Linked DNA regions of Homo sapiens: region 2 is linked to region 1. Evidence: fine-mapped expression QTL. A gene starts in region 1. The other region holds a variant in brackets. All regions are shown on one strand. Distances are from middle to middle.

What was found. PIP is the estimated chance that this variant, and not a neighbour inherited with it, causes the effect. A credible set is the group of variants that fine-mapping cannot tell apart.
Region 2: its variant is the best candidate, but not a certain one, in a credible set for the expression of ASPHD2 in whole blood (TOPMed, PIP 0.80).

The regions. Positions count from the first base shown.
Region 1 is chr22:26,426,996-26,432,367 of GRCh38, reverse strand. ASPHD2 (aspartate beta-hydroxylase domain containing 2) reads right to left here and starts at 3,108. Exons shown (of 4, transcript NM_020437.5): 1 at 2,882-3,108. RefSeq lists silencers at 931-1,225, 2,958-3,017, 3,138-3,267.
Region 2 is chr22:26,400,451-26,405,822 of GRCh38, reverse strand. No RefSeq gene overlaps it. Among named protein-coding and RNA genes, the nearest start is that of ASPHD2, 26 kb to the left of the region's middle. RefSeq lists an enhancer at 394-910. The variant A/T (reference allele first, on the strand shown) is at 1,939.

The sequences.
Region 1 (5,372 bases):
CACAGCTTAAAAAATGGAAAAGTTGTACCCTCCCTTTACCCAGGGACTGAAATTTGGCCTGAAAATTCTTGCAGCATCGTAGCAGAGAGAAGCCAGATTAGAGATGGGCCCAGTTGAGGATTCATCCCAACCTTGGGCAGATCGCTTTTCCTAAGCCTGTTTCTTTTCTTTTGAGACGGAGTTTCACTCTTATCGCCCAGGCTGGGGTGCAATGGTGCAATCTTGGCTCACCACAACCTCCACCTTCCAGGTTCAAGTGATTCTCCTATCTCAGCCTCCTGAGTAGCTGGGATTACAGGCATGCGCCATCACACCCAGCTAATTTTGTATTTTTAGTAGAGATGGGGTTTTTCCATGTTGGTCAGGCTGGTCTTGAAATCCCAATCTCAGGTGATCCGTCCACCTCAGCCTCCCAAAGTGTTGGGATTACAGGCGTGAGCCACTGCGCCTGGCTGCCTCAGTTTCTTTATCCATGAAATGGGGTTCGTGTTCATCTCACTGGATGAAGATGAATGATGGCGGATGGACAGCACTTACGACCACGTCATAATGAGCACCCAATATATGCAGGCGACGGCTAGGATGGGTGGCATCCCATAATGAGTAGCCAGCGTTCCAAAGGTGGGGCACGAGAGAAAGGTATAGCAAGACTCGGAATTCCAACAGTTAAAGGTAAATCCTGGACACTCTTGTTGCCTCATGTATTGAGTGGCTTTTTTGTCCCCAGACTTGCTAAGCTAAAAATGAAAGGGAAACCTTAGGTGCTCATTAACTGCCTACTTGCTTTTTCCCAGTTTCGGTTGAATAATCACTTGACTATAATGTTTAGTAAGTCAAAAACACACATGCTGAATATTCATGGAAATTTTTTATGTTTCTAGGAAAAATACAAGAGTGGGGAGGTTAGAAGCTAAGTTGTTTTTTGTTTTCTTTTGTTTTTTTTTTTTTTTCTTTCCCACACATTCTCAATTTCTTCTCAGATTCAGGAGAAGAGGAAAAGGCTATGACTCACTGGAGGTTAAGAAACCCCTTCAGCCCCCTGTTTCTCTCCTTGTTAGACCATAAACTGGCAGCTGTTACTCTTTAGGAAAAGGAAAGAAAATCCAGATGAAAGATGTTTTGTTTGCAAGCCATCTCCCAAACAGAACCTCAGAGTTCCTGAAATTCAGTGTGAAACAATCATCTATGTGACACCAAGCACTTTTACTAAAAGGATTTCCCCCATCACTGAGCTAAACCCCTACTGGAACTTTTCAACTGAGTCTGTCAGGAGGAAAGGTTTTTTTCTTAAATGTTCTAAGAGTGAGACGGTGATAATTTAACAAGCACCTGTAAAGTGTTAGTTCCCATCAGCCCTGCTGATCACTTAAGTCAAGCAAAATGCAGACACAGAAAACAGGGTGGATGATGGAGAAACCTCTCCACTGGACACCCCAGCCCTGTACTCTTCTCAGGAAAGCCTCCTTCTGTACTAAGCCAGCCATGAGCCCTCCCTAAGGCTGAGCTGTAAGCAAAAGAATGTAAAAGATTCTGAACCCCAGCTTCAGACCCTCCTCCCGAGATCATAAATAGCACTGAGAGCTCAAGTTAGGACTTTTCATACCTGTCAGTCACTTTTAGCCAAAATATGCCAACAGGCCCCTGCACCCGGAGGTGGATTTACAAGCTCAAAGCTGAACTATGACAATAAAAGAAACACATTTGCAGAGTGACTGGCAGTTTATTAAGCACTGCTTCAAACATTTGATCCTCACAGCTACCTAGTGACAACTCCCCATCTACCCAGTGGGGAGAGGAGAGACTCTCTCCCCCGACAGCTCCTTGCCCAGTGACCACAGTAGCTTCCAGCTTCCTTCGCACATCTGTTCATTGTCATCTGTGTTATTTCTGTCCTCATCAGGGATGGGGACATCTCATTGCAGCTCTGCACTTTAATAATAAGCAACCCCAGATCTTCCAGCTCAGTTGGCTCTGGGGAATTGAGTCCAAATCCATGGCCAGTTGGAGAGCAAGTCCAATCCAAGACAACTTCTCACACCATGAACACCTGGGAGAGCCGGTGTCAGGCCTGACCTGGTCAGCCTAGTTCAGATGTCCATTCCCAGAGGCTGCCTAATGCCAAAGAGTGTCTGCTCACCCTCAGGATGAGGCCAAGTCACCCTGGAAGCCCCCCAGTGAGCAGCACTGGGCAAGGTGTGTGATGCCTGTCACCCTCTCCACTCAGGAGCCAGAGAGATGCCGTGGGGCCAGCCCTTCCCGGTGCAGACCTGGGGACCTTCCCTCTCTTGGCCAGCTTCTCAGCACCCACCTGCCCTGGAGAGTGGGAAAGAGGGGAGGGCTGAAGATGGGTTAGCACAGATGGTGACCACCAGGAGGTCAGGGGAGGAGGGGGATGGGACGATGGAAAGGTGAGTGTTGCCCGGAAAAGTGGACGATCAGCTCAAGATTGTGGAAGGAGGTTTATGGCGCCTCATAATTCGTGGGACAGGGGAGGAGGGTCACCACGTGAAATATGGGAAGTGGGTGATGCTGAGGGCTGGGGGAGGGGACAGGAGGTGAGGAAAGAGGGGTCACAGGGGAGAAGGGAGATGGAGGAAGGGACCACGATGGGGCAGGGAAGAGGAGTAGGAGGAGGTCTAGGGAGGGTGATGCCCGGCTCCGAGGCGGCGGCGCTTAGCACGTACGAGCACTGGCCTCGGCCGGGCCGGGATGCGGGCGCCCGGGTCCCGGAGCATCCTCGGCGGGGGCGGCGGCGGCGGCGGCGCCGGTAAGGGAGGGCCGTGGGCCTGCAGCTGCCGGGCTCCCGCCTCCAACCCCTGTCCTGGGGTCGGCCCAGCCGCGCCGCCCTCCCGCCCCGGCAGCCCCCGGAGACGAAGCTTACCTGCGCCCGGGCGCGCGGACGGCTGCCGGGACCCAGGAGACGCCGCCGCCCGAGGGCGCGGACCCGCGGACGGCCCCTGCCCGGCGCCGCGGAGCCGCCGCCTGGCTGCTGCCCAGCCCACGCCGCGGGAGCCCGAGCCGGAGCCCGAGCCCGAGCCTAAGCCGCGCCGGTGCCCCTGCCGGTGCCGACGCCGCGCTGCGCTCCGCGGGGCCGCGAAGACCACAACTCCCACAATGCCGCGCGCGCTGGGCCGCCGGGGGAGGGGGTACGGGGGGGCGGGGCCTGCGGGGCGGGGCCGGGGACCCCCCTGCACCCGGCACCTGCGCTCGCAGTGCGGGAGGCGACCCGAGGCCGCGCCCGCCGCCGCTCCGGAGGGTCCTGGCAGTGCGCCCCGAGACGCAGCGCCCGCCCAGCCCGAGGTTGCGCGCAGGCGGCGACGGGCGTGCAGTCATTCATTAAGAAAGGCTCGCGTCGCTTCCTTCGCTCTTTCGTTTTTCGCTCTGTGTCTTTCTCAGTTCTCCCTCCCTCTGTCTCTCTGTTCCTCTCTGAGTCGCCCTCGTCTCCATTTCCTCCTTTTCATTCTCTTTCACTTCCCCCCCACCTCACTTCCTCTCGCCCTAACGCCTTCTTTCCTTTATTGATGGACTCAACACGGACTTCTGAGGCCCTCAGGCACTTGGAATGGAACCGCAAATCAAACCAGATTCTTAGTCTCATGGAAAACTCATTCGCTCAGTACAGTAATGATGGGCCAGCCTGGGTCCCCGTCCCTGCCAGCTGCGCTGAGCGTGCGCGGTGAGCGCTCAGGCCCGCCCTGCCCTCAGTGAGCCACCGTCTAGCGGGAGGGGACCCTCACCCCCGGGTAGGGTTTAGGAGGGGAAGTACAGGCAGGACGGTTGTCTGACCAGGGGACTGATGAGCTGCGAATGGAGGCCCCAAGGAGGCTGCTTGGAGGAGGTGACGTTTGAGCTAAGACCTGGGGGAGACTAACAGTGGCTACGGGATGTGTTAGGGGCGCCAGGGAAACTGCATGGGTGGGTTCTGGGAGCATAGAGTAGGATGGCCCGCCCACAATCCATCTGTCTCTGTCCCAGACCCACCTCTCTTGTGTCCCAGAATTTATCTCTAACATGGCCCAGAAGCCACCTCATGTCTGTCCCAGAATCCATTTCTCATCCCTATTCCAGAAGCCACCTTCACCCTGTTCCAGAACGTACCTCCTTCCTGTTCCAGAACCCACCTCCCTCCCTGTCCCAGGACCCACCTCCACCCTGTGCCAGAACTCACCTCCTTCCTGTTACAGAACCCACCTCCTCCCTCTTCCAGAACCCACCTCCTCCCTCTTCCAGAGCCCACCTCCTCCCTCTTCCAGAACCTACCTTCTTTCTGTCCCAGGACCCACTTCCACCCTGTCCCAGGACCCACCTCCTCCCTGTCCCAGGACCCACCTCCACCCTGTCCCAGAGCCCACCTCCTCCCTATTCCAGAAGCCACCTTCACCCTGTTCCAGAACATACCTCCTTCCTGTTCCAGAACCCACCTACTCCCTGTCCCAGGACCCACCTTCACCCTGTGCCAGAACCTACCTCCTTCCTGCTACAGAACCCACCTCCTCTCTCTTCTAGAACCCACCTCCTCCCTCTTCCAGAACCCACCTCCTCCCTCTTCCAGAACGCACCTCCTCCCTCTTCCAGAACGCACTTCCTCCCTGTCCCAGGACCCACCTCCTCCCTGTCCCAGGACCCACCTCCACCCTGTGCCAGAACCCACCTCCTCCCTGTTCCAGGACCCACCCCCTCTCTGTTCCAGAACTCACCTCCACCCTGTTCCAGAACTCACCTCCTCCCTGTCCCAGGACCCACCTCCTCCCTGTCCCAGGACCCACCTCCACCCTGTGCCAGAACCCACCTCCTCCCTGTTCCAGGACCCACCCCCTCTCTGTTCCAGAACTCACCTCCACCCTGTTCCAGAACTCACCTCCTCCCTGTCCCAGGACCCACCTCCTCCCTGTCCCAGGACCCACCTCCACCCTGTGCCAGAACCCACCTCCTCCCTGTTCCAGGACCCACCCCCTCTCTGTTCCAGAACTCACTTCCACCCTGTTCCAGAACTCACCTCCTCCCTGTTCCAAGACCCACCTCCACCCTGTCCCAGTACCCACCTCCTCCCTGTTCCAGAAGCCACCTTCACCCTGTTCCAGAATGTACCTCCTCCCTGTCCCAGAGCCCACCTCCACCATGTCCCAGAACCCACCTCTCATCTCTGTCCCAAAATCCACCTGGTCCCTGACCTAAGAATCTGCCTCTACTGTGATAGCCTAAAATCCACCTCCTCCCTGTTCCAGAACCCAGTTTGTCATGTCCCAGAACCCACTTCTTCCATGTCCCAGAGTACACCTCTCCCATGTCCCAGAATACACCTCTTCCATGTCTTAGACTCTTCTTCATCTCTGTCATTTCTCTCCTTTTCTCAACTCCAAAAGAGGAAGAAT
Region 2 (5,372 bases), 27 kb after region 1:
CCCTCCACACCTTCCTGCCCCTTCTTCAGTGGCCCACAGTCATGCACTAGGAAGCTACTGGCTGGAGCTCTGGATGCTCAAGAAACAGACCCCCAGACCCCACCCCCAAAGGCTTGCTGAAAATGCCCTGCACTCACTTACCCATCTGCCTTGACAACCAGGGTGTTCTGGTTCTTTGAATTTGTAGGACTGCATGGACTCCACTCCAGTGAGGGGCCAGCACTAAAGGCAGTTACACAGCTTCCAGAGGCAGCTGTATGATGGGTGAAAATTCCACTGGGAGTGACCATGGTGGTTAGGGCACTCAGAGGTGAGGTGGGGAGTACCAGGAACCAGCACTCCCCCCACTCAAAGTCTCCAGGTATTGGGCCGAGGAATTGGACTGTTCAAAGAGTAGACATTCAAAGCTGCGTAACATTGGATGAGTTAGCCAGCCTCTCTGAGCTGCAGCCAGTTTGTCATTTACAGGATTGCAGGGAAGATGAAATGAGATCATCTTTACGGAGCTTATCACAATGCCAAACACATTGCAATTACCGAACACTTGTTAGATGTCAGTCTGCCCAAGGTTAGCCAGCCCTTAAGTGTTCTGGCCAGGCTTGAACCCAGGGATGTCTGGCTCAACTGCTGAGCTCTTAACACCTCTTCAGGATCTTTTCACAGCCTTACCCTGCTCTCCCTTCTCCTGACTCTTGTCACTCTCTGAAGCTCGCAGCTAAATTGTAACAAAAGAGGAACTTGTGGCTAATGGCTCAGCAGGATTAGGAAGCAACTGCTGCGCATGTTGACAGATTCCAGAAAACAAAATTGTTACCAGCTCAACTCACTTTGGTGTTCATGGTGAGCACTGGGGTAGTGGGGAGCACTTCACTTGGAGGATTGGTTGTGGGGCAACTCCCACTGAGGGCTTGCAGGGGTTCCCATACCCTCGTGCTATGTGTCTTTCAAAAACACAAAGTTTATTCTGCTTCAGGCAGCAGAGACAGAAAGAAAATAAAAAATAATCACAAAGTTTAGGAATGAGGTTTGTTTTTTCCAGGCACTGCTATTCCCTGAGGCCATTCTATGGTCTTTTTATTTGAATCTCAAATGTCAAAATATTTTTTTTTTTAAGTAGAGGTGGACGCAGGAGAAATCTAACTATGAGAATGTGCGTGGCAGGTTTCAAGGCAGCCCACGACGTGAGCAGCCTGACAACTTGGTCCCTGCAAGAGGAGGCTGGTGTGGGGGTGATGTGGCGGGGGTGGGATACAGACAGAGACCAGGAGAGAAACAGAAAGTGAGAAAAAGAGACAGAGAGAAAAAAACAGAGCCACATAGAAACACACACACACACACACACACACACACACACACACACACAGAGAGAGAGAGAGAAATAGACCATAAAAAAAGAGAATAGGAGAAGAAAAACACACAGAGAGAGGCAGGGATGGAACTAGAAGAGACAGAGACAGAAAGACAAAGAGACAGAGAATCAGGAGAGAGTGGCTAAGACAGGCAGGACCTCAGGTCCTCTGGGATTTAGCCAAAGGCACTGCCCACAGCTTGGCCTTCTCTTGACTTCATTCACTCATTCGACAAATATTTAAGACTGCTAGACTTGAGTGGCAACAAAGGCCTCCATTTCTCAAGCATTTTCCATGTGCCAGGCACCGTGCTAAACATTTTACCTGTATTATCTCACTTTGTTCTCACTAGTAACTATATAGAGTAGTTATTATTATTATAGATCCATTTTACAGATTGGGAAACTGACACCTCTGGCCAAAGTCCCAGGGGTATTAAGTGATAGAGCCAGGTCTGCCTGCCTAGATCTCTCACTGTGCCATTAGGCCAATCACTATTACCCTTCCTCCTTCCTCCTTCCTCCTCCTCCTCCTTCTTCTGCTTTCTTTCTTCCTCCTCTTCTTTCTCCTCTCCTCCTCCTCCTCCTTT[A/T]TCTTTTTTTTTGTTTTTTTGACACAGAGTCTCACTTTGTCATTCACGCTGGAGTGCAATGGTATGATTTTGGCTCACTGCAACCTCTGCCTCCTGGGCTAAAGTAATTCTCCTGCCTCAGCCTCCCGCATAGCTGGGATTACAGGCGCCCACCACCACGCTCGGCTAACTTTTTGTATTTTTGGTGGAGATGGGTTTTTGCCATGTTGGCCAGGCTGGTCTCAAACTCCTGACCTCAGGTGATCCACCTGCCTCGGCCTCCCAAAGTGCTGGGATTACAGGCGTGAGCCACTGCTCCCAGCTCACTATTGCTCTTCTAAATGGGACAGGAGACAGAAAGTGAGGCTCAGCGGGTAGGGAAGGAGCATCTGCTTCAGGAATTCTTCTTGTGGGCAGGGAGATCACGGGGAGCTGAATTAAAACAGTAAGAAGGCTGTTCCACATAAACATAGGGTTTTTAACACAGTGGAGGGATGGGCAGAATTGGCAAGGAACAGTAAATCATGCCCCTAAAAGCACAACATGCCTGTGTCCTAGGAACACGAGGATTAGAAGAGTTCAAAAATTCACAAACTGATGACAATTAGAATATCAGGTATAAGGAGCTACAGGGTCTTGGGAATTTGTTTCTTTTTTTAACAAGGCACTAACTCACCATATCAGGTGGCTTTGCAGTGAGCACCGCTTGCTTGGTGTGTGGAGTCCTTTAGAACAGGGATTTTTAGTCTGAGGATGTGGGTGGACTCTGGTTTGTTGGGAGTCTCCTGAGTTAGGATAGAGCTTTCCTGGTTTGGTTCTCTGGAAGCCGACCCTGAGTCATGGATTCCTCTAGAAGTGGTTCATTTGGAGGTGATACCAGAATGCACCAGAAAAGGAACAGAGAAGTGAGGCTTGGAAAGGAAGAAAGCCAATAAAAGGCATGTTACTGAGCGCTGTGGACAACCGAGGCCCCGATCTCCCTGGGAACTCTGGGGACGGCGCAGAACATGCCTCAAAGGTGTCCCTCCCAAGGAAAGGGGGAGCTGGGTATTTACCCCTCAACCCCATCCCTCTTTAGCTGAGGTCCGCTTCCAGGCATATCTCTCTGGCAGTTCAAGATGCCTTATGAGCCACCAACATAGAGTATTTGATTCTTACCTGTGGGTCTTGAATCCTTACGGATCTCAGACTTATTTTTAGAAGTAGGAAAACTGTTTGTACATTACATCAATATGATAACTTTGCAGATGAAGTATAGGTGTTTTGCAAGTATGACTGAATTCTTAATAGCTCTCTGTATGTGTGAAGTTGGGGTGGGGTGGGGACACAGGATGTATTTTCTTTCTTTCTTTTTTTTTTTTTTTTTGAGACAAGATCTTGCTCTGTGGCCCAGGCTGGAGTGCAGTGGCATGATCATGGCCCACTGCAGGCTTGACCTCCTGGGCTAGGGAGATCCTCCTGCCTCAGCCTCCCAAGCAGCTGAGACCACAGGTGCACACCACCACACTTGGCTAATTTTTAAATTATGTATACAGATGGGGTCTCCCTATGTTGCCCAGGCTGGTCTCAAACTCCCAAACTCAAGGGATCCTCCTGCCTTAGCTTTCCAAAGTGCTGGGATTACAGGTAGGGGCCACAACGCCTGGCCGATAGGATGTATTTTCTTAATTACTTGAAATACAAATAGTGTTCTATTACCAAGACCTCTTTTAATTTCAAGGGACAGAAACCCAACTCAAACTGGCTTCATCCCAAAGAGAATGTTTGGTTCATATGATTACAAAGGTGAGAGGTGGGTGGGTCTCACTTTCAGTCCAGCTGAATCTAGAAACTCCAACAACATCACCAGGGATCTGTCTTTTTCTCTTTCTAGGCTCTGTTTTACTTTCTCTTGTTTTCATTTGCAGTCATGATTGCCCTGCGCGGCAATAAAATGGCTGCCAATGGATCCAGGCACACCTCCTAGAGGCCTGGGAGCTCCTGCCAAAAGAGCCAGTCGGTTTCCCATTGGCCAGTTTGGACCACGTGACTTTCTCTGAGCTACCGTGGAATCTTTGATTGCCCAGGCTGTGGTTAGGTCCTCATGGTGTCAGGAAGGAGGATCAGTTCCACTTAAGCCTGTAGCCCCAGAGCCCCTCTCTCTTTCCTCAAAGGAAAAATTGAGGAACTGTTACCATGAGAAGAGGGCCTGGATTTCCATTATAACCGACATATGGAGTCCCTGAAGTGAAAAAGGGACCCTTCTTTTGGAAAATGTTGAGTTCTAGGCCAAAATGTACCAGGGTCTTTCTAGAGAGACATGCAATTGTTTGGCCATGGTGTATGGTTGCTCTTTCATCATTTGATGAAATCCTTTTGATTATATAACCTCTCAGAAAATTCTCCAGTAGAAAATAGTTGAAAGAAAGGAAGGAAGGACTATGGGGAGGGAAACTGGGGAAGCAGAGCAGAGCGAGGCTTCAGATAGTCACTGGAGAGGAGGGCCAGGTGGAAGCCATCTTCCTCCAGATGGGATCCTGGAGTATTGAAGGTCAGGTCCAGACTGATAAGAAAAGATGACTTCTAGAGCCACTAGTAAAGCCTCTCGAGACAAAAAAGCACACCCTCCTGCTGATTGTCCTTCATAGTCTTTTTAGCTTTCGATGGAACAAACTGTGCTGTGATAAACAACCTTGTATAAAAATCCTGACCCAAGGTGTTGAGCATTTCTGTGGGATCCGTGGAATAAATTAGGATGCAGCACACTCTGGCCCATAACTCAGCTTTAGAGCTCTGTGTAATGACCTGGAGAGATGTCCATTCGAGATATGTTCTTTCTCCCTGAATCTATGTTGAGAGAGATACACATAAAGATATAGATATATCAAGGGCGGGGGCATGGGGGAAGCAAAGCACATAATAACTTCTTTTGAGGAAAACAAAGTCTCTTATATGTATCCTTATGAGCAAAGAGAATGATGTGGAAGGAACTATACCAAAGAGTACTGGAAACATTGATGTTTCAAAGATGTGGGACGACAGGGGTTGAGAAAGGTTATTAGCTTGCTTACTAGGCCTGTGTGTTGCTTGAATCCTATAATCGCATGTGACCTTTTTCTTTCTGTCTGTTTTTTTTTTTTTTAATTGAGACATAGTCTCTTTCTGTCGCCCAGGTGGTGCAATCTCGGCTCACTGCAACCTCCTCCTCCCGGGTTCAAGTGATTCTCCTGCCTCAGCCTCCTGAGCAGAGTAGCTGGGACTAAAGCCATGGACCACCATGCCTGGCTAATTTTTGTATTTTTAGTAGAGATGGGGTTTCACCATGTTGGCCAGGCTAGTCTCGAACTCCTGACCCCCCTCAAGCAATCTGCCCACCTCAGCCTCTTAAAGTGTTGGGATTATATGCGTGAGCCACCATGCCCGGCCACATGTGACATTTTAAAGCATGTATATATTTCACATGCCATGAAACAAAA